Linked DNA regions of Homo sapiens. The protein of the gene in region 5 interacts with the protein of the main gene of each other region in a biochemical or structural test. Each region holds a gene or a part of one and is shown on either strand. Other genes may lie near its edges.

Region 1 (4,292 bases), on a different chromosome or scaffold from region 5:
GTCCCTGGAGCTGGAAAACAGCCGCCCCCAGAGGGGCGAGTGTCCTGGGACTGCCAGGGGCGGGGACTGAGGTGCTCCCTCAGGGAACATGGGGGTGTCGCCCATGGGCGGACCCCGACCCTAATGTCTGGGTTGCCGGTCACATTCTGCCTGAACAGCGTCTCCTGGGAGCCACAGGAGGCCATCCCATCCCTGACGCCCTACAGAGGCAGCCAGGCCAGGACATCCCATTCCTCGTCGTGATTCCTGGCGCCTCACTCCCACCCACCTTTCCTGGCCCCCACCCAGGAGACTCTGCAGCCCTTGCGGAGGAGTCCCCTCCAGCCCCGTCCAGCCGCAGCTCCAGCACCGAGGACTTCTGCTACGTCTTCACGGTGGAGCTGGAACGAGGCCCCTCCGGGCTGGGGATGGGCCTGATCGACGGGATGGTGAGTGGCCCAGGACCCTCGCCGCACCCCCATACTGGCTGCCTGGCCCCGCCTGTTCATGCAAGCCTGGCCGCAGCTTGCGTGGCCACGTGGCTACAGGAAGGCCTTCGGGGAGGAGAGTGGGGTTGGCCTCTGCAGCTGGGAGGGGAACCCAGCCTGTCCAACGGCCACGCCCCCTGGGCCTGCTGTCTCTTGCCTCTGTCCTCAAGCCTTTGGGGTCTGTCCTGGGCCTGTGGGGACGGTGGTGTCCACTGCTTTTCTGGAGGGACGCGTGAAACCATGAGTGGGCCTGGCTGGATGCCAGGCGGGGGCCTGTAGGTGCCAAGGGAGGGGCTGCAGTGGTCCTCGCTGGGGACAGCCAGTCGGGCCTGCGGAGCTCTGAGGCCTCTGCTTGTCCCCAGCACACGCACCTGGGCGCCCCCGGGCTCTACATCCAGACCCTGCTCCCGGGCAGCCCCGCAGCGGCCGACGGGCGCCTGTCGCTGGGGGACCGTATCCTGGAGGTGAATGGCAGCAGCCTCCTGGGCCTTGGCTACCTGAGGTACCCCCACCGCATGCACGCCCGGCCCCTTCTCCCAGATGCCCTGCTCAGGGGAGTGGACCTGGGGTAAAGGAGAGGCCCGGCTGCACCCTGTGGGTCTCCCCTGGTGCCCTCCTGCCCACCCCCACCTCTGGCATGGATTTCAGAGCTGTGGACCTGATCCGTCATGGCGGGAAGAAGATGCGGTTCCTGGTCGCGAAGTCCGACGTGGAAACAGCCAAGAAGATCCATTTCCGCACGCCCCCTCTCTAGGGGGGCTGCGAGGACACCCCCACAGGCCCGGCACCCGGTCCCACCTGGTGACACTGGGCTTCCTCCCGCCTTCGTCCCTGTTTTGTAACTGACCAAGTTGGGTCCCGGGTGGGGAGCCTCACCCTGGGGACATGCCTGTTGATAACATGCATCTCAGTGTAGGTTCTATTTATATGGCAGATGACGTGAAATTGTGATGTTTGTTACAGAGCTTTTATGTTTAAAGACTTCAATGGAGAAGTACGGTTCAATAAACTATTTTTCCCGTTCTTAGAGGGTGCCCTGCTGGGGTCTCAACTCGGGCAGCAGGCGTGGGCTGCTCGGAGGGGCCGCAGGGGCTCCCCATGGCCTCTGCCTGCCACCGGCACGGGAGAATGCAGTGACAGCTGTCATCAGGGGATCATCTGAACTGACTCTCCCTGCCCCCGTCCCACCCAGACACAGGGCACTGCAGGAAGCAGCTCCAACAGCCCCTCCCAGCTGAAGCAGGGCCAGACCTGGCAGAGGATGCTGGACTTCTGATCCCGCTGCTCAGCACAGGCCCCAGAGAAAGGTCTAGACACCCAGGCGTTGGAAAGTGGACCGGCCTGATGGTCTCTGAGGCGCCGAGCCCACCCTGGGCCCTGCTTCCTCTCCCAGGACTCCTGCTCCCTCCTGAGTTCCTCTCCCCTACTAAAGCCACCAGCGTGGCCCTGATACCAGGCTGGCGGCCCCAGGCCCTTAATCCTCACCAGCGTCCCCCTGGCCACCGGCCCTAACCCGGGCAGGAGGCCAGCGTCCCTCTCCACCAGCTGGCTGACCATGCGCAGGACCAGGGCAGGGCACTTGCTGCCTCGGGGTGACAGCGTGGGTCGCTGGGCATCCTCAGCAGCTCCACCAACTGGGTGTGGGTGGCTTCCGCGCCCTCCTGGCTGTGGTGGAACTGGTGGCCCAGGGTCATCTTTGATAGCAACAGAGAAACCCTGGGGAAGAGGGTCCCGGCATCAGTTGCAGATGCACCTCTCACTGGGACAGAGGTCTGTGCGGGGTCCCCAGATCGGTGTCCTGGGTCTGTCCCAGGCCCTGGGCCTCGTGCAGCTCCACGCTGCCCCCTGGTGTGCGCTACGGCGAGGTGCAGCGCGTCCGCCCCGCGCCCTCTGCCGACCCGCAGTTCTGTGTGCGGCTCCGCATTGCGCCTGGCTCGAAACGGCGACCACTGCCAGGTTCCCAAAATACTGGATAAAATATATATATATATATAGTGTTTGTATATATATTTAAGATATGTAAAATATATGAATATATATAAATATATAATTATATATGAATATATTACATATTCATGTATACGTAATATATTCGTATATTTTATAAACATTTTTTATATTTTATTATATAAAATATAAATATTTAATTTTTTTTTATGAGACGGAGTCTCGCTCTGTGACCCAGGCTGGAGTGCAGTGGTGCAATCTCAGCTCACTGCAACCTCCACCTCCCAGGTTCAAGCAATTCTCCTCAGTCTCCTGAGTAGCTGGGATTACAGGCGCCTGCCACCACGCTTGGCTAATTTAGTACTTTTAGTAGAGACAGGGTTTCACCACGTTGGCCAGGCTGATTTCAAACTGACATCAAGTGATCTGCCCGCCTTGCCCTCCCAAAGTGCTGGGATTACAGGCGTGGGATTACCATGCCTGGCCTTGTTCTGTTTCTTTTCCTAGGAGTCCCACAACGTGTGTGTTAGCACTGCCGAGAATGTCTCACAGCTCTGGACGGTCTGCATTTCTGGACCTGGTGCAGATCCCAGGATCCTGGACTCTGATTTGATGCCTTAACGGTGGAAGGGGGTTGAGTATATTTTTTATGTGGGAGGGGTGTGGACTGTGGCCAGAGGAAAGACAGTGGCAAGGCATTTCCAAAGGTGGCCACCAACAGTTCCTCCCACAAAGAGAAGGGGGCTTATCTCTTCTTCCCTGCAATATTCTCCGGCCTTCTGACTTGCTCCGAACAACAGGATGCAGCATAAGTGATATTCTGGGACCTTCCAAGCCAGACTGAAGGGCCTTTGGTTTCTATTTTCATGCTCCTGGAACTCAGCATCCATGGAAAGAAGCTCTTGGCATCACCCCAAGGAAGGGAGGCCCCGTGGAGTCGGGGAGGCCCAGCTAGCCTCTGGCCGCTGAAGCACCTAGCTGAGGTGCGGGACTGGTGAGGGCTGCCACTGGCTGTTCTGGTCTTGCTGAGCTTCCAGGCGAATGCAGTCCCACCAGTGATCCCGGGGACACCACGTGGAGCAGAACGACTTCCCAGCCAGGCCCCAGACAATCTACAACACTGTGAAAGGTAACACTTCTTATGGGTGTTTTGTTTTTTGGTTGTTTTGTTGATGGAGTTTCACTCTGGTCACTCAGGCTGAAGTGCAATGGTGCAATACGGCTCACTGCAACCTCCGCCTCCCAGGTTCAAGTGATTCTCCTGCCTCAGTCTCCTGACTGGGATTACAGGCACCTGTCAGCACACGCAGCTGATTTTTGTATTTTTAGTAGAGACCAGGTTTCACCATGTTGGCCAGGCTGGTCTCAAAACTCCTGACCTCAGGTGATCTGCCTGCCTCGGCCTCCCAGAGTGCTGGGATGACAGGCGTGAGCCACCGTGCCCGGCCTGTTTTTGTGTTTTAAAAGCATTTTATTTTGACATAATTATAGATCCAAAGGAAGCTGCAAAAATAGCAGAGTCCCGTGTACCTCCACCAGCTTCTCCCACTGCAAAACCTGAAAACCGACGTTGACTTGTTACTATTAATATAGCAGTTACGCTTTGTACATATTCAGTTGTCACCACTTTTTAAGTTAAAGTGGAATTCACATAGAGTTAGCTATTTAAAGTGTATAATTCAATGGCAAGCAGCACGTTCACAGTGTTATGCAACCATCACCACTGTCTAGTTTGGTCACCTCCAACGGGGAAAACACGGCCACTAAGCAGGCTCTCCCCATTCCCTTCTGCCCCTAGGCCCTGGCAACCACAAACCCACTTTCTGCCTCTGTCTACACCTCTTGTGGATATTTCATGTAAGTGTTATCAGAAAGGGG
Region 2 (4,292 bases), on a different chromosome or scaffold from region 5:
AGACACACCAGAGGAGCTATTTGGACAGGTCATCAGTGGTACGTGGCTTGGCAGTGTACAGGGGCAGAGTGTGGTGTGCACGGAGAGATGGACAGGCTCAGGGTTCCAGGGATTTCAAAAGCGACCCCCCAGAGGATCGCTTGCACTCAGGAGGTCAAGGCTGCAGTGAGCCATGATCGTGCCACTGCACTCCAGCTGGGTGACACAGTGAGATCCTGTGTCCAAACAACAACAACAACAAAAACCGCCCCTAAGTTCCGTTTTGTTTTGCAGATGACATCCTGTGGCCCGAGGGGGATGAGGCCCTACCTACGGAGGCCCAACTCCTCATATCCAGCCTCCTGCAGACCAACCCTCTGGTCAGGCTTGGGGCAGGTAAGTCCGCCATGCAGAGGAGCTGAGGGCCCACTGATAGAGAGCAGGCCTCCAAAACCCCAGGCCCAGCCTGTGCTGTGGCCCCGGGGCGGAAGACATGGGGGGCGGGGCTGGGCTGCTGGGTTGGCCATCAGCTGTGGCTGGAATCCCTTCCGTCCCAGGCGGCGCTTTTGAGGTGAAGCAGCACAGTTTCTTTCGAGACCTGGACTGGACAGGGCTGCTGAGGCAGAAGGCCGAGTTCATCCCCCACCTAGAGTCGGAAGATGACACTAGCTACTTTGACAGTGAGCTGGGACACCAGGCACGACCTGGGTCGAGGGGTGGGATCCGGGAAGAGGGACCCTGGGGTAAGTAAAGCCTGGGATAGGGCCTGGCTAAGTACCAAGATGTGATGCCTAGGTGCGAAGGTGGTATTTTGGTGGGGGCGGGGCCAAGTGGGGCGGGGCTGACATACAGGCGGGGCTCAGGCTGAAATGTAGGTAAGAACCTGAGATTGGGCTAGGTGTGGGGCCTGGCCTGGGTGAGTTGTGAGTGTGGGCCTGGAACTGAACTAGAGAGAGGTACTAGCGCTCAGAATGGCCTGGGGTGATGCCAGGGTGCAGAGCACTGTAGGTGGAGCGTGGCCTCTTTGGAGGCGGGGCTAGACGGTGCCACTGAGAATGGGGCAAGGACCTTGCCTGGGAGCGGAGCCTAAATTAAATACACTAATGAGGCAGGGGCGTGGCCTGACCTGAAGACTTGTAAACCCGTCTTGAACCAGGACTGGGCTCCTGTGGGGATGTGATATGAGGAGGAACCCCGTACCCTCAGTCACAGCCCATACCCGCTCCCCAGCCCGCTCAGACAGGTATCACCACGTGAACTCCTATGACGAGGATGACACGACGGAGGAGGAGCCCGTGGAAATCCGCCAGTTCTCTTCCTGCTCTCCGCGCTTCAGCAAGGTGGGCCAAGTCTGGGTGTGGGACAGGGCGAGACCCCAGGAGGGATGGGGCTTGGAGAGACAGTGAGAAACAGGTTCCCTGGTGCCCAAGGTCTCAGGAGCGGGAAGTTATTGATGGGGCGGGAGTCTGGAAGGTGGTAAGGCCACGCAAGAGGCAGGTTCGGGAGTCTATGGGACGGGCCTTTGGCACTGAGTGGAATCTAACAGGAATCAGGACAGTTGTGCAGATTGAGGCCATGGTGGGGCGGGGCTAGGTGTGGGTGGGGCGGGGTCAGGACGTGGGAATGAGGCCAGCAGCGAAGGCGGAGTAAAGCCCAGCGAAGTCTTGCTTTTATTTATTTATTTTTATTTTTTCTAATAACGGGCAGAGAAGCCATAGGCCTTGCTTTGAGAAGCAACTTGTAGAGGCGTGCAGGGCCTAGCCTGGGCTAAGGAGACATAAATTAAGGGGGTTGCTGGGAAGATGGGGCTGTGTAGAGAGCAGATTGGTCAGGGCATCGTCGGGGCAGAGCCTAGAATAAAACGCAGTGCCTAACTTTGTGGTGTGGGGCCTGAACTGAAGAATTGTAGGTTGGGGGATCATGCACAATTGGGCGGAGCCAGGCCTCGGAGGGTGGAGTGCGTTTTGCGGGGGATCCACTGCCAGGAAGCTGATTAGCTCCGGAGTGAAAGTGGAACCCGGGCTGGACTTGCCTCCCACCACCACCTACAGGTGTATAGCAGCATGGAGCAGCTGTCGCAGCACGAGCCCAAGACCCCAGTAGCAGCTGCAGGGAGCAGCAAGCGGGAGCCGAGCACCAAGGGCCCCGAGGAGAAGGTGGCCGGCAAGCGGGAGGGGCTGGGCGGCCTGACCCTGCGTGAGAAGACCTGGAGAGGGGGCTCTCCGGAGATGTGAGCAGGGGAATGGCGGAGTTTGGGGGCGGGGTCGAAGGGGGCGTGTCTTCCATAACCACGCCCCCTCCATGCAGCAAGCGATTCTCCGCGTCCGAGGCCAGTTTCCTGGAGGGAGAGGCCAGTCCCCCTTTGGGCGCCCGCCGCCGTTTCTCGGCGCTGCTGGAGCCCAGCCGCTTCAGCGCCCCCCAAGAGGACGAGGATGAGGCCCGGCTGCGCAGGCCTCCCCGGCCCAGCTCCGACCCCGCGGGATCCCTGGATGCACGGGCCCCCAAAGAGGAGACTCAAGGGGAAGGCACCTCCAGCGCCGGGGACTCCGAGGCCAGTGAGTGCCCTATCGTGCTGCCTTCCCCAATCTTCCCCAATGTCCTACTGGTCATATAGTGAGCATCCCACGAGCCTGGTGCTGTTTATGAAAGATCTCAGGTCCTATTCACATTGCAATTTGGGATTTTTTTTTTTTTTTTTTTTTTTGAGACAGAGTCTCACTCCATCACCCAGGATGGAGTGCAGTGGCGTGATCTCGGCTCACTGCAACCTCCACCTCCCAAGTTCAAGTGGTTCTCGCACCTCAGCCTCCCGAGTAGCTGGGATTACAGGCGCGCGCCACTACCCCCGGCTAATTTTTGTATTTTTAGTAGAGACAGGGTTTCTTCATGTTGGCAAGGCTGGTCTCGAACTCCTGACCTCAAGTGATCTGCCTTCCTTGGCCTACCAAAGTGCTGGGGTTACAGTCGTGAGCCACCACACCCAGCCCAATTTGGGATTCTTAACATTAGAAACACCCCAATACCATGGTCAGTCAGTGATACAGACCGATACAGACTATGTCTCTATATGAGGAGCAGTGAGGCATGCAGGTTACCTGCTCAGATGAAACTCACCATCCATCAAGGGTAAAAAGTGGAAAGAGCATTCCAGGCAGGGAAACAGTATGTGGGAAATCCCTGGCCTTGGACTAATTCCTAACACACTTGCTTTCTGTTGCAGCTGACCGTCCACGCCCAGGTGACCTCTGCCCACCCTCGAAGGATGGGGATGCATCAGGCCCAAGGGCTACCAATGACTTGGTTCTGCGCCGGGCGCGGCACCAGCAGATGTCAGGGGATGTGGCAGTAGAGAAGAGGCCTTCTCGAACTGGGGGCAAAGTCATCAAATCAGCCTCAGCCACTGCCTTATCTGTCATGATTCCTGCAGGTAATGCTGGGCCCCACCTGGCAGGGGAGGGGCTGCCCCCCATTTGAGGCAGGACAGACCAATGAAAATGCTGCATTTTCCCTGTCCACCGTGATTGGCTCCAGGCTGGACCAATGAGAGGCTGCTCTGCCACTGCCTTGGGAGGAGGGAGGAGCAGATACAGGGAGATGTCTATCTTCTTGGTTCTGATTTCTGACCATGGTTGTGTGTCTGTAGTGGACCCACATGGAAGTTCACCCCTTGCTAGTCCCATGTCTCCACGATCTCTGTCCTCCAACCCATCCTCACGGGACTCCTCACCCAGCCGGGACTACTCACCAGCTGTCAGTGGGCTCCGCTCCCCCATCACCATCCAGCGCTCGGGCAAGAAGTATGGCTTCACACTGCGTGCCATCCGTGTCTACATGGGTGACACGGATGTCTATAGTGTCCACCACATTGTCTGGGTGAGTACTCATGGGTGGAGTCTCCATCACAGAGTGGAGGGTGGTGGGGAAAAGGCCCCTCCAGCTCAAACCAGTTAGCCTGGGTGAGACACCTCTGTGACCCTCTATGCCTCTTCCCTCTCTAAACCTGTTTCTTTTTTCTTTTACTTTTTTATTTTAGGCGGAGACTCACTGTGTCGCCAGGCCGGAGTGCAGTGGCAGGATCTCGGCTCACTGCAACCTCTGCCTCCTGAGTTCAAGCCATTCTCCTGCCTCAACCTTCTGAGTAGCTGGGACTACAGACAGGCGCGCGCCACCACGCCCAGCTAATTTTTGTATTTTTAGTAGAGACGGGGTTTCACCATGTTGGCTAGGATGGTCTCAATCTCTTGACCTCGTGATTCACCCACCTCGGCCTCTCAAACTGCTGGGATTACAGGCGTGAGCCACGGTGCCTGGCC
Region 3 (4,292 bases), on a different chromosome or scaffold from region 5:
TCATTATTATCTGCAAATCATGGGCAAGAATGTGTGCTCAACTACAGAAAAAAATGATTTAAGGATCACAATTATATTTTTGATATTAAAAGTAATTCATTTTCCTGATATGTTTTGCCCTTTGGCTTAATGAACATGGAATTGGAGAACACAATATGCAATTTATTTTACAGTGCAAGGCTAAATAAATGTTCTCCTTCACTTTTCTACAAGGACCAACTGTCATTTACCCTTAGGGTAGGAGCACTAAGTATGCATTTCTTGACATTCTCATTCGAGTCATTAGAGGCAGCATCAATCCAAGGACTCCGACTGCATTAATTGGGTAGAAGCAGTTGGGATATTTTGTACTCAAAACTCTCTTCTCACCCTGTTTGTTTCCCAGCATGCAGGCTTTCTGAGCTGATCAAGGTTAACAAGGCAGCTTTCAGAGAGATTAGTGCTTGAACACATATCAAGCCTTTCATACTACCAGCTAAGCAACCGGTTGTCCCCACTCCCAGCATCAAGTCTTGCTCGAAGTAACCAGATTTAGGCAGTCAGATCTTCAAAGGGCGCACGTAACCACATAGAAGGGTAGAACTACAGAGTGCTGTTATTCATTCTTTTGCATTTTACATGTTAGCGTTTCTCTGTATACTAACTGAGTGTGCCCCTGACCATGGGTATTGATTATTTTTTCTCTGTACAGACGGTCTGTCTGATAAGAGCTCTCACTCTGGCCAAGGAGCTCTGAATTGTGAGTCTGCCCCTCAGGGGAATTCGGAGCTAGAGGACATGGAAAATAAAGCCAGGAAAGTCAAAAAAACGAAAGAGAAGGAGAAGAAAAAGGAAAAGGGCAAATTGAAAGTCAAGGAGAAAAAGCGCAAAGAGGAGAATGAAGATCCAGAAAGGAAAATAAAGAAGAAGGGCTTCGGCGCCATGCTGAGGTATGGGCCTGCTTTGAAGGCAAAGTTGGTTCTCATTTTGTCTCTCCTGGTAAAATCACTCCTTTGTCTGTACTCAGAAAAAAGCGCACGCTTTTCCTCGTCTTCAGCCAAATGCATACGGCTCTCAATTCTGTGCTCGTTCTCTTTCTGCAGAGGCAGAGGAGCTTTTTGGGGAAAGTTACAGTGATGACAGGACACTGTCTTAAGTTTGTTGTCAAAGAAAGGTCAACACTATGCCAGGCACGGTGGCTCATGCCTGTAATCTCAGTACTTTGGGAGGCTGGGAGGATTGCTTGAGCCCAAGAGTTCAAGACCAGCCTGGGCAAGGTAGGGAGACCCTATTCTTTTTTTCTTTTTTCTTTTCTTTTTTTTTTTTTTTTTTTTTTTGAGACAGTCGCGCTTTGTCGCCCAGGCTGGAGTGCAGTGGCGTGATCTCGGCTCACTGCAACCTCCGCCTCCTGGGTTCAAGCGATTCTTCTGCCTTAGCCTCCCTAGTAGCTGAGACTATAGGCATGCACCACAACGCCCAGCTCATTTTTGTATTTTTAGTAGAGTGGAGTTTCGCCATGTGGGCCAGGAGTCTTGAACTCCTGACCTCAAGTGATCTGCCTTGTCTGCCTTGGCCTCCCAAAGTGCTGGGGTTTCAGGCAGGAGACCCTATTTCTAAGAAAAAAAAAATTAGCCAGGCACAGTGGTGCATACCTGTAATCCCAAGTACTCAGGAGGCTGAGGCCAGAGCATGGCTTGATCCCAGTAGTTCAAGGCTGCAGTGAGCTATGATTACACCATAAAAGAAAGGCCAATACTTAGTAGAGGCATGGACAATGCCTGCAGTCCTTTGTACCAAAGTGTTATGAAAATAAATACTTCCTCTGACACCACAGGGAAAGTGGGAAGTGGGGAAGCCCTATGTGTTACCTCTGGAATACCTCTTTTGAAGCAGGGGAGTCAGGGTAGATGAACCTCATCCCTCTGTGACTCTAGGTGTGCAGTGGCCGGGCCTCTGGGCACATCACTTGTCACCTCCAGAGGCACTGTGGTACAGGGGAGATGTCACTGGGTCTGGGCTCTGATGCCCAAGTCTGGATCCATGACTCCCCACACATGAGCAATGGGGCTTCACACACATTGCTTAGCTTCCCTGAGCCTTACTTTCCTTACTTTTAAAATGAGGCCAGCATACTTGCTCTACTGACCCAGCACAGTTGTGAGATATGATTTCATATGCTATACATTCATTGACTAGACGGGGCTCAACATGGCACAGTCAGAAAACAGCTTTGTTTCTTCTCTCCCCTTCAAGTATAAACTGTTGAGGCTGCCTCTTCCACACCCTGACATCTCAGCTTTCTGGCTGATAGCTTTCTGGTCACTTTTGGGTAAAAAAAAAAGCAACTTGTTTGTCGGGGGCTAAAATATGCAATCCAATATAAATGAAAGCTTTCTTCCTTTCTGCCTGTTGGACCTGAACCACAAGGAGCATCCTATGGTATGGTGGGAGGCAGGATTCCACCTTCTCCTATTTCTCAGTCTTTGGAACCAGGAGACAAAGACAAGATTCAATAGGATAGGATTTTACTTAACTGGCATTATCTGGTATAATCTGGCCATCAAGGAATCTTTGTGGCTACTTTTGTGGATTTTTTAGAGTGCTCCTTACTATACCAGTCACTAATGTAGGTGATTTTCCCACTGACCTATTTCCCTAAGCCTCTGACCTCAGACATATACCCCTGAGTCTCCTTACCCCGGCTGGTAGACTTCTTGGACAGTGCCAGTTTGAGACAGCTCTAGCTTAACTTACAGCCACAGCATCTACCTGGCTTATTAGAGTTCCTGATCTCCCACCCTCCAAATGATGCAAGTACAGCTTGTTCCCACTGTACCGCTCCTCCTCACCCCACCATAGAGATGTTCCAACCAGCCTTGCATCTTCAGACTTCTCCAGCACATCCCACACCAGCTCTGGGCCTCCTCACTCCAGAAGCACACATCAGACTCTCCCAAGAATGCTGTCATGCATGGGGAAGGGAGGAGGCAGTCAATTTTTGCAAGTCACAAAATAAACAGGTAGGAAGTGGGGTGACAATCTCCTATTATACAATTACCTCCAAATTCCCTAAGGGGTTTACTTGTAGCCCCCTCACTTATTTTGTTGGGTGTTACAGGCAGAAGTACCCCTTTCTATTACTGTCTTTACTCCTATAATTTCTTCTCAAATCAATTGATCACTATACTTCTGTGGGCTGAAGGTGAATGATGGGAGATGATGGTTTAGGGGCCAGTTTGGCCACCTCTTATGAAACCCTTAGGAGATACCTCATTTAAGAATGCTGCGTGTATTTATTACCAATTGTTCTCATTTTGTGATCATCAGCTGAAATTTCTACATAGAAAAGAAAGTTCCATCATTCCATATATAAGTGACATTTAGGGAATACAAATAATCCTCTTAGCAGTGAGCCTTCCCGTTACATTTCCAGTGCTCATGAAATGCTAAGCAAGGTTCCTCATGCTCAAAATCTTGGGAGCGATGTTGCCCCTGGATGTGTTATGACAAGACTTGCTGCGGTCCTGCTATCACCTGGGGTGAGGTTACCCCAGCAGGCCTGATGTCATAATAGCTATCTGAATATTAAAAAACAAAATTTTGGCCAGGCATAGTGGCCCAAGCCTGTAATCCCAGCACTTTGGGAGGCCAAGACGGGCGGATCACCTGAGGTCAGGAGTTCGAGACCAGCTTGACTAACATGGAGAAACCCCTTCTCTACTAAAAATACAAAATTAGCCGGGCGTGGTGGTGCATGCCTATAATCCCAGCTACTCGGGAGGCTGAGACAGGAGAATCGCTTGAACCTGGGAGGCAGAGGTTGTGGTGAGCCAAGATTGCACCATTGTACTCCCGCCTGGGCAACAAGAGCAAAACTCCATCTCAAAAAAAAAAAAAAATTCAGCTAGGCATAGTGGCTCAGGCATGTAATCCCAGCACTTTGAGAGGCTGAGATGGGCAAATCACTTGAGCCCAGGAGTTATAAGACAAGCCTGAACAACATGGCAAAAACCCATTTCCATAAAAAAAGGAAAAAAACACAAATTAGCTGGGCATGGTGGCATGTGCCTATAGTCCCAGCTACTCAGGAGGCTGAAGTGGGAGGATTGACTTAGCCTGGGAGGTAGAGGATACAGTGAGCCATGATCCCTTCACTGGACTCCAGCCTGGGCAACAGAGTAAGACCCTATCTCAAAAAATTAAAATTAAAAAGAACAAAATTTCAGCAAATTGAGTTCTAACAATTGAATTGGATTTTATTAGTGATTCATAAATTGGTCCACATCCCATCTACAGAATAGAAGGGCATTTGA
Region 4 (4,794 bases), on a different chromosome or scaffold from region 5:
TTTTAGTAGAGACTGGGTTTCACCGTGTTAGCCAGGAAGATCCTGATCTCCTGACCTTGTGATCCTCCCGCCTCAGCCTCCCAAAGTGCTGGGATTACAGGCTTGAGCCACCGCGCCCGGCTTCATAAATGTTTGTTAAATGAATACATGACAATCTTGTAAATGCTGATAATGGGGTGACAATTGGGAAACTCATCAAAACCTGGAGTGCTCAGGAATTGTATTATGTCACAGGATTGCTTCTTGACCTGTTTAGTTATATCTAATCCCACAGATTATACCTATAATTTAAAAAGATACGAAAGATTGTATAATGTGTACATGCTTCAGATCACAGAGAAATATAGTGTGGGAAGGACCGCCTCTATTTACCTTTTAACAGGGCTGTGTTCTAGGAAGTGTTTGTGATAGGGAAGTAGAGATAACACTTTTTCTTCAGGAAGAAGTCTGACTCTAGAAGGGGAGAAACTGAAAGCCCCAATCCAGTCTCAGGGAACCCAGCTCAAAACTCTGACAAAAAAGCCTGCTCAGGAAATTCTACGGTGTGGCTGGAAGGTAAGTTAGAGGCTGCCTCCACCTGCTTTATTATTCCTGCGTATAGATGACTGTTGCTGTCCATTTAGGCAGAGTCAATTCCAGTCTAGCTTAAAAGATTCTTCTGAGACCCTTTAATCTTTCAGCATCTAATTCAAATGTCAAGCAATTTACAATAATAGTTTCAAATAATGCTTCCTCACAGGTGAGTCAACATTTCTAAGAAAGCAGAAAAGTTGGGTATAAAAAGTTCAATTCTTCCTCGTCGGAAAAAAGATGCAAGACATTTCTACCGTGGGCTGAGCGCTGCCTGGAGGGCAGGGAGGAAGGGGTGAGCGGACCGCGCTGGGATGTGGGTGCCTGGAACTGCCAATCTCTCCGTTTTCCCCTTGGCTCCTAAAGGTCTCTTAGCAGCATTTCCTGCACGCTGGCACCCCCTGTCCTCCTAACGTTTTACTGCCTGCGTGTTTCTCTGTGCTTCCCCACCCTCCGACCCACAGGGCCCGGGGCGCCCTCCGGGGGCCGGCACACAGCAGGGTCTCGCTTCCTCGCGCTGTCTTCTTCAGATGGGATCACTTCGACTTGCGGCCGTTTGGGCGTTCGCGGGGCCTCGGCGATTCTGTGGCGTCCTGGGCTGTGTATGTAGCCCCAGCGGCCGAGGCTCACGGATCCGACCGCCCGGCCGCCGCGTCTGTCCCAAGTTGGGAGACGGGAGGGCCGGGTGGGGTCGCGCCTGCGCCAGGGGGCGGCTCAGAACCAGACTCGCGGTTTTTAACTTATTCCTCAGAGGGGCGAAAGCGAGTCTCGACAAGGACGGCGACGGCTCTCTAGAAGCCGGGGTCCAGGTAGGCTGCCCGGCCCTCGAGCTCGCCCAGCGCCGCTCATGATGCGCCCCGCAGCCCCCTCCCCAAGAAGGGCGTCCGGGCCCCTCCTGGACGCGCAGCTCCCGCGCGCCGCGGGGCCTGGGAACAGCGCACCGGCTGCGCCCGGAGCCGGGCGGACGGTGAGACTGACGGCGTCCGCGCCCAATCGTGGGGCGGGGCCGAGGGGGCCTGCAGGCAGCGACCAATGGGAGCCCGCAGAGCGGGCGGGGGGCGGTGCCGCTGGGCGGGCGGGCGGTGGCATCGGGAGCCGGCGCGGCAGACTGGGAGCCCGGGAGGAGCTGGCGGAGCGAGAGGAGGAGGAGGACGGAGGAGGAGCACCGCGCCCCCGCCGGCCGCCCGAGCGCAGGCCGAGAGCTCCAGCCGCAGCCAGCGGGTCCGGGCCGCCTCCGCCGGAGCCCGGCGCGGGGAGAGTCCGGGCCGATGGGCAGCCCCGGGCAGCGGCGGGCGGCGAGGCGGCAGCCCGGGTACGCGCCGCCCGGCGCGCACAGGCTGTAGCAGGTTCCGGCGGACGGCGTTGCGAAGGTTCGTGTCGGGGAATCCGACGGGCAGCGTGGCGAGGGTCGGTTCGGGATGCCTGCGGCCAGGCGGGGACTGTCCCGAAGGGGAAGGGGATGCCCTTCGGGGCGCTTTGGGGGGCTGACGGCGGCGAGGGGTGCGAGGGGCGCGGGGGTGCGAGGGTCGCGGCGCAGGGTCCGGCTTGTAGACGCAGATGCGCCCGCGCTCCCGATCCCCGGCTGGAAGAGGAGCCGCCGCCGCCTGTTCTCTCCAAGTTATCGATCGGCTGAAAGGTTATTCCCGTCTCGGCGACACAGGCACTGAGGAGGGTCTTCTCCAGGTGCCCAGAACTTCGCTCTGACTAACGCTCTCTGGAAGGGCTCGCGGTTGCCCGACGCAGCTTCCCCGGCGCGCCTGGCCAGCTGACGCCGAACTTGCTGCGGGGCTAATTCCCCTTCTAGAGGGGGTGCGCCCGGAGCGCGCGCCCTCACCGGGACGGATCCCTCTTTGTAAGACCGGGAGCCTCCGGCGAGCGCTCTTCTCACTCACCGCGACCTTTCTTCCCACTTTGCCAGCTCCTGGGCCTCTCCGGGTCTTCCCGTGTCAGTGAGGGTAGTTTGCCCACGTCCTGGGAATATCCCTGGGAACACCTACAGATTAATTTTCAGCCGTGCCGCAAACCCAAAGAATCAATTTCGGCTCATCATCTGCAAGAGAGAGCCGAGGCTTCTCGGAAAGAGAGAACAACTTGGCATTACCCCTGTGGGAGATATTTGTCATCATTAACCTGCTTGAGTTAAATTAATTCAGCCCAAGATGACTCTGGCCTGAGTATTGGAAAAAATCAAGTGCATTGGTTACGGAATTGTGCTCACCAAAACATGATTTTGGTCAAAACAAAATTGTAGACATTTTGGATTTTGGTTAGATTGAGACTGGGTTTTGACAAGGATGGCTTTTTTTTAAAAAAAACAAGGAAAAAAACCCTCAAAGAATCTTGGTGATTCTCATGTCTTTGCCCAGTAAGTTCAAAATAGTCGCACAGATTTTTCTTTTCTTTGCCTCTTTTGTCTGCAGTCTCCATTCTAAACGTTAACACTAGATGGCTTTCTTATGACAGACATTTAGTAAACTGCCCATTTGAGTCGCGTTTGTGTGCAGCCTAGGTTGTAATTTTTCTAGTGTTACAATTAGTAATTGAAGAAAAAAGATCTCCCAAACTGTTGCTTTTTATTGCTTTCCTAGAAAACCTACACATACCGATATTTTTGCGGATATTGAGAGGTGGCCTATTATTTTTGGCATTCCCAAAGTTGAATTTCAAGAGACAACTTGGTTACTGTATTTAGTTACATCATTTAAGAATGCTTGTTTCATGTTTGGACTTATTTAAAGAATTCAGAGTTCTGTTAGTTTTGTCATTCTGTTTAGACAATATTTCCAGTTAAAAGATGTTTACCGCTTGATTGAATTTCACTGCTTGATTCAGAGTTATAAGAGAGTATTATTCATGAGAAAAATGCAGTCTTTCTTAAGTTTTGGGTATAAATCACATTGATTCTTCCTAAAAGATTCCATTGATCCATTTTGGGAAGAGATGCAGTTAAAGTATCTGCATGATTCATACCAGGGATTGTGTTAGGGACATCTCCCCAGAGGATGTTTGATTTTTTCATTTCTAAGCACAAGCCCTTTTATGACAAGCACAATAGCCCGTAGTTTCAGCAGTAACAGCAGCAGCAGCAGCAGCAGGCTCCCAGTTATGTTTTTAAGCACTTTTATTCTAAAGCAAGATCACGGCAGCCTGTCCAAATCTTGCCTAGGTAGGCAAACTTATTTATACGCTGAGTAAATATCTTGAAATTATCTTTGTAGCTATCATTTATTGTGTGCCTTGCCCAGCTTAAAATAAGACATACTGAATTTGTTCTAAATTAGAGTGTATTCATAAATAGCTGAAGGAAAAAGAAGAAAAACTACAGAGCAAACATCTGGGAAGTAGGAAATGAAATCAGAAACAGCTTTTATCAGTACCCACATTCTACCTATAGATGGGGTGAAATGAACCTGGATAAGAAGCAGTGTAAGCACTTGATCCGGAAAAGCAAGAGCTAGATCACAGGTATGGGGGTGGAGCTTCTGGCTTTTAGTATGGGCCACAGATTTTACCCAGTTGCTTTAAGTATATGTTTTTCATTAGATGCTTTTTATGTTTTGAAATCATAGATTTTCTCAAAGAGCTTTAATTGTATGGAATGTAACTTTTAGTCTAATAAGGGAATTATCAGATCATGATTTGGCTTCTATGATGCTTACTGTAGTTAAAGCTGTGTAATATGGATTTGGAAGGTGTTTTTTTTTTTCTCCCCCTCACCCCGCAAGACTGGGATGGTGTTTTGAAGGGTTCCTTGATACCTGAGCTTAGTAAACACTTGTCCACCTTGGGGATCTTTTTACCTGAGGCAAAGGAGAAGCGGGTTATTATTTTGAAATTAGCAGTCTATTTCTGAAAGTAAGGAAATACTAGCTACCCTGAAAAACCAGTTGTTTGGTAATTGAAACTGGTTTAAAAGCACTGTGTTTGGGCATCGAAACTAGTTTAAAGGGATTGTGTTTCCTGCATACTTTGCAAAGAACTATGTGTTTATGTGGATACAGCCCCTTGCCCCCAACCATAATTGGTAAATGCAGCGTTATTTTTTGAGATTGAGGAAGGCATTGAGTTTTTGAACTTCTGATCAATTTATGGTGGTAGTTGAGGATTACAAATCCTTTTAAAGACACACTGAATTTGAAGAAAATTTAGACTAGGGTATTGTTAATTGAAAAGCTGCTTTTTTTTTTCTTTCTGTTTTGAACTTCAATGAAATACAAAGTACAG
Region 5 (4,292 bases):
TAAGCATTTCCTCTTTTTTAAAAATTTGGTTTGAGCCTTATGCCCATAGTTTGACATTTCCCTTTCTTCTTTCCTTTTTGTTTTTGTGTGGTTCTTGAGCTCTCTGACATCAAGATGCATGTAAAGTCGATTGTATGTTTTGGAAGGCAAAGTCTTGGCTTTTGAGACTGAAGTTAAGTGGGCACAGGTGGCCCCTGCTGCTGTGCCCAGTCTGAGTACCTTGGCTAGACTCTAGGTCAGGCTCCAGGAGCATGAGAATTGATCCCCAGAAGAACCATTTTAACTCCATCTGATACTCCATTGCCTATGAAATGTAAAATGTGAACTCCCTGTGCTGCTTGTAGACAGTTCCCATAACTGTCCACGGCCCTGGAGCACGCACCCAGGGGCAGAGCCTGCCCTTACTCACGCTCTGCTCTGGTGTCTTGGGAGTTGTGCAGGGACTCTGGCCCAGGCAGGGGAAGGAAGACCAGGCGGTAGGGGACTGGTCTTGCTGTTAGAGTATAGAGGTTTGTAATGCAGTTTTCTTCATAATGTGTCAGTGATTGTGTGACCAAGGCAGCATCTAGCAGAAAGCCAGGCATGGAGTAGGTGATCGATACTTGTCAATGACTAAATAATAACAATAAAAGAGCACTTGGGTGAATCTGGGCACCTGATTTCTGAGTTTTGAGTTCTGGAGCTAGTGTTTTGACAATGCTTTGGGTTTTGACATGCCTTTTCCACAAATCTCTTGCCTTTTCAGGGCAAAGTGTATTTGATCAGAAGTGGCCATTTGGATTAGTAGCCTTAGCAATGCTACAGGGTTATAGGCCTCTCCTTTCACATTCCAGACAATGGAGAGTGTTTATGGTTTCAGGAAAAGAACTTTGTGGCTGAGGGGTCAGTTACCAGTGACCTTCAATCAACTCCATCACTTCTTAAATCGGTATTTGTTAAAAAAATCAGTTATTTTATTTATTGAGTGCCGACTGTAGTAAAGCCCTGAAATAGATAATCTCTGTTCTTCTAACTGATCTAGGATGGGGACGCACCCAGGTCTGCTGAACTTTACTGTTCCTCTGGGAAAGGAGCAGGGACCTCTGGAATTCCCATCTGTTTCACTGTCTCCATTCCATAAATCTCTTCCTGTGTGAGCCACCACACCCAGCCTGGGTCTCTCTACTTTTAACACATCTCTCATCCCTTTCCCAGGATTCCTTCCAAGTCAGTTACAGGTGGTTTTAACAGAAAGCATCAGCTCTGCTTCGTGACAGTCTCTGGAGAAATCCCTTAGGAAGACTATGAGAGTAGGCCACAAGGACATGGGCCCACACATCTGCTTTGGCTTTGCCGGCAATTCAGGGCTTGGGGTATTCCATGTGACTTGTATAGGTATATTTGAGGACAGCATCTTGCTAGAGAAAAGGTGAGGGTTGTTTTTCTTTCTCTGAAACCTACAGTAAATGGGTATGATTGTAGCTTCCTCAGAAATCCCTTGGCCTCCAGAGATTAAACATGGTGCAATGGCACCTCTGTCCAACCTCCTTTCTGGTAGATTCCTTTCTCCTGCTTCATATAGGCCAAACCTCAGGGCAAGGGAACATGGGGGTAGAGTGGTGCTGGCCAGAACCATCTGCTTGAGCTACTTGGTTGATTCATATCCTCTTTCCTTTATGGAGACCCATTTCCTGATCTCTGAGACTGTTGCTGAACTGGCAACTTACTTGGGCCTGAAACTGGAGAAGGGGTGACATTTTTTTAATTTCAGAGATGCTTTCTGATTTTCCTCTCCCAGGTCACTGTCTCACCTGCACTCTCCAAACTCAGGTTCCGGGAAGCTTGTGTGTCTAGATACTGAATTGAGATTCTGTTCAGCACCTTTTAGCTCTATACTCTCTGGCTCCCCTCATCCTCATGGTCACTGAATTAAATGCTTATTGTATTGAGAACCAAGATGGGACCTGAGGACACAAAGATGAGCTCAACAGTCTCAGCCCTAGAGGAATAGACTCAGGGATTTCACCAGGTCGGTGCAGTATTTGATTTCTGGTGAGGTGACCACAGCTGCAGTTAGGGAAGGGAGCCATTGAGCACAGACTTTGGAAGGAACCTTTTTTTTGTTGTTTGTTTGTTTGTTTGTTTGTTTGTTTGTTTGAGACAGGGTCTTGCTCTGTCACCCAGGCTGGGGCGCAATGGCACGATCTTGGCTCACTGCAACCTCTGCCTCCTGGGTTCAAGTGATTCTCCTGCCACAGCCTCCTGAGGAGCTGGGACTACAGGTGCGTGCTACCACGCCCAGCTACTTCTGTATTTTTAGTAGAGACGGGGTTTCACTGTGTTGGCCAGGCTGGTCTCGAACTCCTGACCTCATGATCTGCCCGCCTCAGCCTCCCAAAGTGCTGGGATTACAAGTGTGAGCCACCACACCTGGCCTGGAAGGAACCTCTTAAAATCAGTTTACGTCTTGTATTTTGTTCTGTGATGGAGGACACTGGAGAGAGTTGCTATTCCAGTCAATCATGTCGAGTCACTGGACTCTGAAAATCCTATTGGTTCCTTTATTTTATTTGAGTTTAGAGTTCCCTTCTGGGTTTGTATTATGTCTGGCAAATGACCTGGGTTATCACTTTTCCTCCAGGGTTAGATCATAGATCTTGGAAACTCCTTAGAGAGCATTTTGCTCCTACCAAGGATCAGATACTGGAGCCCCACATAATAGATTTCATTTCACTCTAGCCTACATAGAGCTTTCTGTTGCTGTCTCTTGCCATGCACTTGTGCGGTGATTACACACTTGACAGTACCAGGAGACAAATGACTTACAGATCCCCCGACATGCCTCTTCCCCTTGGCAAGCTCAGTTGCCCTGATAGTAGCATGTTTCTGTTTCTGATGTACCTTTTTTCTCTTCTTCTTTGCATCAGCCAATTCCCAGAATTTCCCCAGGCAATTTGTAGAGGACCTTTTTGGGGTCCTATATGAGCCATGTCCTCAAAGCTTTTAAACCTCCTTGCTCTCCTACAATATTCAGTACATGACCACTGTCATCCTAGAAGGCTTCTGAAAAGAGGGGCAAGAGCCACTCTGCGCCACAAAGGTTGGGTCCATCTTCTCTCCGAGGTTGTGAAAGTTTTCAAATTGTACTAATAGGCTGGGGCCCTGACTTGGCTGTGGGCTTTGGGAGGGGTAAGCTGCTTTCTAGATCTCTCCCAGTGAGGCATGGAGGTGTTTCTGAATTTTGTCTACCTCACAGGGATGTTGTGAGGCTTGAAAAGGTCAAAAAATGATGGCCCCTTGAGCTCTTTGTAAGAAAGGTAGATGAAATATCGGATGTAATCTGAAAAAAAGATAAAATGTGACTTCCCCTGCTCTGTGCAGCAGTCGGGCTGGATGCTCTGTGGCCTTTCTTGGGTCCTCATGCCACCCCACAGCTCCAGGAACCTTGAAGCCAATCTGGGGGACTTTCAGATGTTTGACAAAGAGGTACCAGGCAAACTTCCTGCTACACATGCCCTGAATGAATTGCTAAATTTCAAAGGAAATGGACCCTGCTTTTAAGGATGTACAAAAGTATGTCTGCATCGATGTCTGTACTGTAAATTTCTAATTTATCACTGTACAAAGAAAACCCCTTGCTATTTAATTTTGTATTAAAGGAAAATAAAGTTTTGTTTGTTAGGTTGTGTGTGACTTGGCATATTTCTGAAAGTATATGACAGCCACTAGGAAGCATATACACCCAGCAGTGAGAAATAGAGGATTCAGTTTGTAGGGCAGATTGGGAACTGCTTTCTGAGGGCCTCTTTCTTTTTTGCTGGGGCTCTTTTTCCCCTGTGGGATTTCTCCTGCGTCAGCAAACCCCCACAGTCTAAGGTCAACAGAATTGATTGCTAATATGGTCATCAGTAACACTCAAGTAGGTCACATGATGCTTTGGATATAACTATAGTTCTCAAGTTGTTATCCCAATGACACCTCTTTTTTTTTTTTTTGGCATTTTCAGTGCATATGGCTGTCTTTGCCTTTCAAGCCCCATTGACTTAATCTGATGGCCTAAAAAAGAGTTTTCCCATCATTGCTAGAACTTTTGGCCTCTTAAAAAAGGGAAGGGAAAGGGGGCTTTTTTTTTCTTCAGATTTTTTTTTTTCTGGCTACCCAGTGGTTCTGTTTGTGTAATAGACATGGGCATATGTCACATTTGTCAATCAGGAAAGTGGCTTCTTTAGCTAATTTTATAAATTGGATGGTCTGTGTCCCCATATCCAGAAAAGTCATCGGACAAAGCAAATTCAAAGCTACTATCAGGATAT
Region 6 (4,292 bases), on a different chromosome or scaffold from region 5:
ATGGTTCACTAGCCCTGACCCCCTGGGCACAAGGGTTCCTCCCACCTCAGCCTGGACTACAGGCACGCACCGGCACGCACCACCACGCTCAGCTAGTTTTTGTTTTTGTAGAGATGGGGTTTTGCCATGTTTTAAATCATTTTGATTGAAAAGAGATGCTAATAGTAGTTATCATTTGTTGAATGTGTACCATGTGCTAGGCCAAATGCTCTAAATTATCCTCTTTAGTGTTTGCAGTATACATATGAAGTAATTTTTTTTTTCTTTTTTTTCTCCTGAGATGGAGTTGCCCAGGCTGCAGTGCTGTGGCACCATCTTGGCTCACTGCAACCTCCATCTCCTGGGTTCAAGCAATTCTTCTGCCTCAGCCTCCCAAGTAGCTGGGATTCAGGTGCCCGCCACCACGCCCAGCTATTTTTTTTTTTTTTTTAAACAGAGTTTTGCTCTTGTTGCATTTTTATTAGAGACAGGGGTTTCACCATGTTGGCCAGGCTGGTCTCGAACTCCTGACCTCGTGATCCACCCGCCTCAGCCTCTGAAAGTGCTGGGATTGCAGGCGTGAGCCACCACACCCAGCCATGAAGTAATTTTTATTAACTCTTTTTTACAAACAAGGGGACTGAGGTGTAGGGAGATTTAAACAATTGGCCTACAGAGCGGGTCCTAGGGATAAACCCTGAGTCTCTGATTTCAAAGCTCATAGGCTATAGAATTTCCCATATTTCAATAATTGGCTATTGAATCAACTGGCAAAAAGTTGATTATTGAAGTACACATTTAGTTCTAATCCTGTTTTTGTATTAGTGACCAATAGGAAATGATCTAAATTCTCGTCAACAGGAGATTGGGTGAAGAAAGTATGTATTCCTACCATCGAATGTTACTTAGTTGTTACAGTGGCTGAGCAGGAACTGCCTATATCATCATGAATAACACCCCTCACCGCAGCCTGGTGTTTTTTTTTTTGGAGACAGGGTCTCACTCTGTTGCCCAGGCTATGGAGTGCAGTGGTGTGATCATGGCTCACTGCAGCCTAGACATCCTGGGCTCAACTGATCCTCCCACCTCAGTCTCCTGAGTAGCTGGGAGTACAGGTGTGTGCCACCACAGCTGGCTAATTTTTAAATTTTTTTGTCAAGATGGGGTCTTGCCATGTTGCCCAGGCTGGTCTCAAACTGGGGCTCAAGTGATCTGCCTGCCTTGGCCTCCCAAAGTGCTGGGATAACAGATGAATAAATCTTAAAAATGTAAAGTTGAGCTTAAAATAGCAAGTTGCTGAAGAATAAGTATACAGTATGATGTAATTTATATAAAGTTTAAAAACCTGCTGAACAGTAATATTGTAAACCAGGACAATGTGTGTTTTAAGAATTTCACATTTGAATTTTGTCTGTATTGATTGCTTGCACTTGGGAAGCTGCCTCATAGTTCAAAGAAGTTAGTGGAACCACTGTGAGATGAACATTCTCTAATGTAGGTTGTACTCTTAGAACCAAAGCAGACCAAGGTCCTGCCCTTGCTTTGACCCTTTGCACACCTTGCTTGGTTTGGTAGATGGCTTTTAGGCCTGGGTCTGTGGGCTTTCAGGGACAGGTCAGTTTCATTTCACTTTAGCTTCCATTAATAATAATTAGTGGATGTTGCTTTGACAATAGGGGCTGGTGGGCAGGGCTTCTGCCTGGTATCCCTTGGGGTTATTTTCTGGAGCTTTTTTTTTTTTTTTTTGAGATGGAGTTTCTCTATTTTTGCCCAGGCTGGAGTGCAATGGTGTGGTCTCGGCTCACCACAACCTCTGCCTCCCGGGTTCGGGTGATTCTCCTGGTACTATTACTACTGAGTAGCTGGGATTACAGGTGCCCGCGACCATGCCTGGCTAATATTTTTGTATTTTGAGTAGAGACGGGGGTTTCTCCATGTTTGTCAGGCTGGTCTTGAACTCCCAACCTCAGGTGTTCTGCCTGCCTCGGCCTCCCAAAGTGCTGGGATACAAGCATGAGCCACCACGCCCGACCCATTTTTCGGCGCTTGTAATGAAGTTCCAGGACGTAGTGTGGTAGAAGAGGGAGATAAGTGAATGTTGAGGGTCAGGTTGTAAATCTTCCCACCATTTAAAATTTGAAGTATTCTCATTTTTAAAGTAGTTATCTACTGAAAGGTCACTAACAGTTGAACCCCTTCCCCATGGAATTAACTCTCTCCAATGGCATCTATGTTTCCTTGCTTTGTTTTTACCTTTTTTCATAGTATCCCTTTCCCTTTTCTATTTTATTTTACTTTTTTTTTTTTTTTTGAGATGGAGTCTCACACTCTGTTGCCCAGGCTGGAGTGCAGTGGTGCGATCTCCACTCACTGCAATGTCTGCCTCATGGATTCAAGTGATTCTCCTGCCTCAGCCTCCCGAATAGCTGGGATTACAGGTGTGCACAATGACACCTGGCTAATTTTTGTATTTTTAGTGGAGACGGGGTTTCACAATGTTGGCCAGGCTGGTCTCAAACTCCTGGCCTCAAGTGATCCGTCTCCTTGGCCTCCCAAAGTGCTGGGAGTACAGGCGTGAGCCACCACGCCTGATTCCTGATATGACCATAATTTCTGGGGAGAAGCTGGGAGTGTACAGTCGGCAGTGCGGGTAAAATTGAATAGCATTTTTGAGGTGGAAACTAATCATTAGTGAATAGTATGAATGCCCAGGTCTTTTTAGTGGGGACTGGCTACATGATCAGAGACCTCTAAGTGTGAAAATTGCCCAGATTTTTTTTGTCATTGTTGCTCGTTGGAGAAAACTGCTACCAACCAGAATACAGAAGCCTACCATAGACTGGGTGCATTGTCTCTAGCCTGTAATCCCAGCACTTTGGGAGGCCAAGGCAGGCAGATCATCTGAGGACAGGAGTGTAAGACCAGCCTGACCAACATGGTAAAACCCTGCCTTTACTAAAAATACAAAAATTAGCCAGGTATGGTGGTGCATACCTGTAGTCTCAGCTACTAGGGAGGCTGAGGCAGGAGGATTGCTTGAACCCTGGAGGTGGAGGTTGCAGTGAGCCAAGACCGCACCACTGCACTCCAGCATGGGCAACAGAGTGAGACCCTGTCTCAAAAAAATAATAATAATAATAAAATAAAAAAGGCCGGGCGTGGTGGCTCATGCCTGTAATCCCAGCACTTTGGGAGGCCGAGGCGGGTGGATCACCTGAAGTTGGGAGTTTCAGACCAGTCTGATTAACATGGAAAAATCTTATCTCTACTAAAAATACAAAATTAGCCCAGCGTGGTGGGTCATACCTGTAATCCCAGCTACTCAGGAAGTTGAGGCAGGAGAATCGCCTGAACCCGGGAGGCAGAGGTTGTGGTGAGCCAAGATCTCTCCATTGTACTCCAGCCTGCGCAACAGGAGCAAAACATCATCTCAAAAAAAAAAAAAAAAGAAGCCTACCATATAGCAGTTTAACTTTGTTCCTACAAAAGTGGCCAAGTTATAGGAAGAGTATTGATATGCATTGGTTAACTTTGAATAGTTTAATGAGAAAATTAGCATGAGTTAACTGAATTATTCTGAAAAACTGACTCTTTTCATTTCTTTCTTTTTTTTTTTTTTTTTTTTAAGACGGAGTCTTGCTCTGTCACCCAGGCTGGAGTGCAATGGCACAATCTTGGCTCACTGCAACCTCTGCCTCCCAGGTTCAAGCGATTCTTCTGCCTCAGACTCCTGAGTAGCTGGGATTACAGGCATCTGTCACCACACCTGGCTAATTCTTGTATTTTCAGTAGAGGCGGGTTTTCACCACGTTGGCCAGGCTGGTCTCAAACTCCTGCCCTTGTGGTCCAAGGCCTCCCTTGTGCCCGCCTCGGCCTCCCGAAGTGCTGGGATTACAGGGGTGAGCCACCGCGCCTGGCCTTCATTTCTTTTTTAAAAAATTTATTTATGTTCATTGAAGCACTATTCACAAGTTTTAATTTCAGATTCTGAATTTAAAGTGGTGTCTTTCAACTTCAATTTCAACATTTCCTGAATGTTCACTGTCAGGAGGATTTAAACATTGCTTAGGCTTAAGCATATATCTGCAAACTGTCAGGATTGTTCTGGAATTTATATATGTTTCCCAAATTCCAGGGATATAGTGGTCCAAAATATAGTATTTTTATATTTAAGGTATTTAGAAAAGTCTTGTTATTTGGTAGGAACACAATGCTAGGACACCTGACTTGAATCTGCATTTGTATGGCAGCAGATGTATTTATTTGAAGTACTGGTGGAGAGCAACCATTATTCTTTGGCTAGGAAAGTTTGT
Region 7 (4,292 bases), on a different chromosome or scaffold from region 5:
GCCTCCTGGGTTCAAGTGATTCTCCTGCCTCAGCTTCCTGAGTACCTGGGATTACAGGTGCCTGCCACCACGCCTGGCTAATTTTTGTACTTTTAGTAGAGACTGGGTTTTACCATGTTGGCCAGGCTGGTCTCGAACTCCTGACCTCAAGTGATCCGCCCGCTTCGGCCTCCCAAAGTGCTGGGATTACAGGTGTGAGCCACTGCGCTTGGCCTCTAACTGTTTCTATTAACTATCAAGCAGTCTTTTTTTTTTTTTTTTCCTCCTTCAACAAATGCTGCTTCAGGGAAAATTATTTCTCTACTTGTCTTAGGATATCAGAAATTACTGCGATGGACTCAAAGTTGCTAAGGAATACTTTGAAGTCCTTCCTACACATAGTACTGGTAGTCTGCACATCACATATATTGACATGGTGTCTGAGAGCTTTTTAGAAGTTCAGAGTCTCAGCCTTTACCCAGATAGATGTGCTGACTCAGAATCTGCATTAACATAACATCCCTAGGTGATTTGCATGCACATTACAGTGTGAGAAGTGTCACCCTGGGTGATCTCCTTTCTGTTTGTGGCTTATTCACTTTGACTGTTAAGCTTTGAGCTGGAATGGTGCTGTGTAAATTCCTAATGTCAGTTTATGTTCATCAGTGACTTCACTGGCTGTTTACTAATAGTAATTTCTACAAAGTAATTGTTTTAGATCTTAGAAATGATCCTAGTCATCTTAACACTCAAGAGCTTCATGGTAGTTGGACTTTGAGGAAGAAGTAGAAGGCAATCATAGAAGCTGTGTGAGTGGGTGCTTCTCAGGTGGTAAGGGCCAAGGTGATAGAGACAGCGTCATATATGTGTTAGACACACACTTTGGTCAATTCTGATCGTGATTTGTTCTTTACCCTTTCTGTCCTCCCCATCCCTTTTTGGGCACGTGCAGGCTGAACTTCCTGTACTGATGCTGGGAAGATCATCTGACCTTCGGGCTGGAGAGTTTGTGGTGGCTTTGGGCAGCCCATTTTCTCTGCAGAACACAGCTACTGCAGGAATTGTCAGCACCAAACAGCGAGGGGGCAAAGAACTGGGGATGAAGGATTCAGATATGGACTACGTCCAGATTGATGCCACAATTAATGTAAGTCACTTAGGACAGAGGTGCCCAACCCATGGGCTGTGGACCAGTACAGGTCCATGGCCTGTTAGGAACTGGGCCGCACAGCAGGCTGTGAGCCATGGGCGAGTGAGAATGACTGCCCGAGTTCCACCTCCTGTCAGATCAGTGGCGGCATTAAATTCTCATAGGAGTGCAAACCCTATTGTGAACTGCGCATGCAAGGGATCTGGATTGCATGTTCCTTATAGAATCTAACTCATGCCCGATGATCTGAGGTGGAGCAGTTTCATCCCAAACCACCCCTCCGTCTGTGGAAAAATTGTCTTCCACAAAGCCGGTCCCTGTGCCAAAAAGTTTGGGGATTGCTGACTTAGGAGGCCTTTCCTCAGATCACACAATATTGGCAGTTCAGTGAGAAGAATATGTCAGAGTGAACTTTGGGGATGTCCAGGTTTGGTTGAATCACTGTGGGAGGAATGGAATGCCACTTTGTTAGAGTCTGTCTCGTTCGCTGTGATCGCTGGCATCCATGCTATTAGGTGGTCTGTTGTAGAGGTCACCCCTCCTGTAAGAAGGTGGTGGTCCCTTGGCCAGGCACGGTGGCTCATGCCTGTAATCCCAGCACTTTGGGAGGCCGAAGGGGGTGGATCATGAGGTCAGGCATTCGAGACCAGTCTGGCCAACATGATGAAACCCTGTCTCTACTAAAAATACAAAAATTAGCTGGGCATGGTGGCGGGTGCCTGTAATCCCAGCTACTCAGCAGGCTGAGGCAGGAGAATCACTTGAACCGGGAGGCAGAGGTTGCAGTGAGTCGAGATTGCGCCATTGCATTCCAGCCTGGGCAACAGAGTAAGACTCCGTCTCAAAAAAAAAAAAAAAAAATGAAGGTGGTGGTCCCACTGCTATAGTTCTTTACCTACACTGACTTTGGTATTGGTGATGATAGGGGCACAATTTTGCCGGCCTGGGGGGAATAGGAGCTTGGTGGGCTGCTTTTGGTAAACTGTTTTGGGAGCTATGTGTAAAGGACAAGGGGGAATGTATTCATTAGCTTCACTGATGTCTTTTTCAAATTCTGCTTTTAGTATGGGAATTCTGGTGGTCCTCTGGTGAACTTGGTAAGTGATCACTTTCCTTGTTGCTTCATGTTTCTTCTTAACTTTCAAAGACTTTATTAATTCCAGGCCAGGGGTGGTGGCTCATGCCTGTAATCCCAGCACATTTGGGATGACTGCTTGGGGCCAGGAGTTTGAGACTAGCCTGGGCAAGACAGCAAGACACCATATCTACAAAAACAAAAACAAAAAAGGACTTTACATATTCCATGATGCAGACTTGGGTGCCACTCTTGTGTAGAGAGCTGTGGAATGGTGCTTTTCTGTTCTTGGACCTTAAGTCAATAGTTAGAAAAAATTCAAGATTGTTATCCTGGTGTGTGATCTCATCCCACTGAGAACACTAGGGTTCTAGCTCCGGCTTCCTTTGAAATTTCTCTCTTCCCCGTGCTTTCTGTTTTCATTGGCTAGTTACCCAAAGCCCTGGATTTTATTTATTTATTTATTTATTTAATAGAGACGATGTCTCACTATGTTGCCCAGGCTGGTCTCAAACTCCTGAGTTCAAGTGATCCTCCTGCCTTGGCCTCCCAAAGTGTTAGGATTACAGGCATGAGCCACCATGCTGTGCCAAAAGCCCTGGATATTAAACCCAGGTTTATGCCAAATGACCAGCTTTGCTATGAAATGTAGGTCCTTGAAGACTCCTTGATGCTGCATATGAAGAACTATCTCTCATTTAAAAATGCTAATTACATAATGTCATCTGTCCAGGTTTTTAGTCTTGACCTCTTGACCTGCTTATAGATGAGAGAAAAGCCACAACCAGCACTCCTGACTTCAAGTGAGCTGCCTGCCTTGGCCTCTCAAATACATTGCCGTGTCATGTATTCTTAAATTGTATTCCGTGTCTCTAGTGGAAATGTCAGGGTTTCTAGTTGCCCAAATACATGTGAAAACCTAAGAGAGTGCAATGCTGTTTGACACATAGCATGTGATCATCCTTTCTGAGTCCCTTTGCACTGATTGCTTTTGGTTCCTGTTTAAATATTACATTTGCTTTTAGAATGAATTTTATGCAAAATGATTGTTTTTTTTTTTTTACTCATAGCATTGCATGTCATTTTTCTTTGTTTTGTTCCTGCCTTCTCCATTAGACAATGAGTTTACTAGAGCAGGGATGAAATGCAGAATTTCAGGCCATACCCCCGACCTACTGAATTACAATCTGTAGTTTAACACAATCAGAAATCTCTTTTCTGGCTGGGTACGGTGGCTCACTCCTGTAATCCCAGCACTTTGGGAGTCTGAGGTGGGTGGATCACCTGAGGTCAGGAGTTCAAAACCAGCCTGGCCAACATGGTGAAACCCCATCTCTACCTAACATACAAAAAAAAAAAAAAATTAACTGGGCATGGTGGCATGCGCCTGTAATCCCAGCTACTTGGGAGGCTGAGGCAGGAGAATCGCTTGAACCCGGGAGGCAGAGGTTGCAATGAGCCAAGGTTGCACCAATGCACTCCAGCCTGGGCAACACAGTGAGACTCCGTCTCAAAAAGAAAAGAAAAAAAAAAAGAAATCTCTTTTTTATCCTTTCCCATTACCTAAAAGGCTAAAGGAAGATGAGGTACATAAAGAGGAAAATATTTTCTACCTCATACCTTTAGCTTAGCAGAGCTTTGTTCCCTAAGGTCAATTTTGCTAATTCTCAGTGCAGTGTTACTGACAATCCCACAGCTTTTTACCTTTTCCATGTTTATTTTTACTTTTAAATAATAAAAAGGCAAATGCTCCTTGTCCTTCTACCTTTGTCAAAATACAAACTGTGGCTCACTTTTAAAGTCAATGTAACTTACTAAAGGAAAAAAATGAGCTTAAGTTTTTTTTTTTTTTTTTTTTTTTTTTTTTTTTTTGAGACGGAGTCTCGCTAGGTCGCCCAGGCCGGAGTGCAGTGGCGCGATCTCGGCTCACTGCAAGCTCCGCCTCCCGGGTTCACGCCATTCTCCTGCCTCAGCCTCCCGAGTAGCTGGGACTACAGGCACCCGCCACCAGGCCCGGCTAATTTTTTATATTTTTAGTAGAGATGGGGTTTCACCATGTTAGCCAGGATGGTCTCGATCTCCTGACCT

The links.
Region 1: the proteins of FZD4 (region 5) and RADIL interact in a test that uses a peptide from one of them, tested with the Homo sapiens proteins (one large-scale study listed by IntAct).
Region 2: the proteins of FZD4 (region 5) and MAST1 interact in a test that uses a peptide from one of them, tested with the Homo sapiens proteins (one large-scale study listed by IntAct).
Region 3: the proteins of FZD4 (region 5) and PARD3B interact in a test that uses a peptide from one of them, tested with the Homo sapiens proteins (one large-scale study listed by IntAct).
Region 4: the proteins of FZD4 (region 5) and SIPA1L2 interact in a test that uses a peptide from one of them, tested with the Homo sapiens proteins (one large-scale study listed by IntAct).
Region 6: the proteins of FZD4 (region 5) and PATJ interact in a test that uses a peptide from one of them, tested with the Homo sapiens proteins (one large-scale study listed by IntAct).
Region 7: the proteins of FZD4 (region 5) and HTRA4 interact in a test that uses a peptide from one of them, tested with the Homo sapiens proteins (one large-scale study listed by IntAct).

What each region holds. Positions count from the first base shown.
Region 1 is NC_000007.14:4,796,307-4,800,598, reverse strand, and holds the end of RADIL (ras-associating and dilute domain-containing protein), read left to right. Parts: intron 1-288; coding exon 289-428; intron 429-829; coding exon 830-969; intron 970-1,115; coding exon 1,116-1,221; 3' UTR 1,222-3,544; downstream 3,545-4,292. UniProt on the Homo sapiens protein: Downstream effector of Rap required for cell adhesion and migration of neural crest precursors during development.
Region 2 is NC_000019.10:12,865,444-12,869,735, forward strand, and holds part of MAST1 (microtubule-associated serine/threonine-protein kinase 1), read left to right. Parts: coding exon 1-38; intron 39-273; coding exon 274-375; intron 376-536; coding exon 537-659; intron 660-1,209; coding exon 1,210-1,319; intron 1,320-2,030; coding exon 2,031-2,209; intron 2,210-2,286; coding exon 2,287-2,534; intron 2,535-3,199; coding exon 3,200-3,406; intron 3,407-3,622; coding exon 3,623-3,852; intron 3,853-4,292. UniProt on the Homo sapiens protein: Microtubule-associated protein essential for correct brain development. Appears to link the dystrophin/utrophin network with microtubule filaments via the syntrophins. Phosphorylation of DMD or UTRN may modulate their affinities for associated proteins.
Region 3 is NC_000002.12:205,300,773-205,305,064, forward strand, and holds part of PARD3B (partitioning defective 3 homolog B), read left to right. Parts: intron 1-691; coding exon 692-929; intron 930-4,292. UniProt on the Homo sapiens protein: Putative adapter protein involved in asymmetrical cell division and cell polarization processes. May play a role in the formation of epithelial tight junctions.
Region 4 is NC_000001.11:232,627,015-232,631,808, reverse strand, and holds the start of SIPA1L2 (signal-induced proliferation-associated 1-like protein 2), read left to right. Parts: upstream 1-1,675; 5' UTR 1,676-1,940; intron 1,941-4,794.
Region 5 is NC_000011.10:86,945,047-86,949,338, reverse strand, and holds the end of FZD4 (frizzled-4 precursor), read left to right. Parts: 3' UTR 1-3,660; downstream 3,661-4,292. UniProt on the Homo sapiens protein: Receptor for Wnt proteins.
Region 6 is NC_000001.11:61,748,728-61,753,019, forward strand, and holds part of PATJ (inaD-like protein), read left to right. Parts: intron 1-4,292.
Region 7 is NC_000008.11:38,977,022-38,981,313, forward strand, and holds part of HTRA4 (serine protease HTRA4 precursor), read left to right. Parts: intron 1-931; coding exon 932-1,126; intron 1,127-2,193; coding exon 2,194-2,226; intron 2,227-2,937; coding exon of another isoform or gene 2,938-2,970; exon of another isoform or gene 2,971-3,464; intron 3,465-4,292. UniProt on the Homo sapiens protein: Serine protease.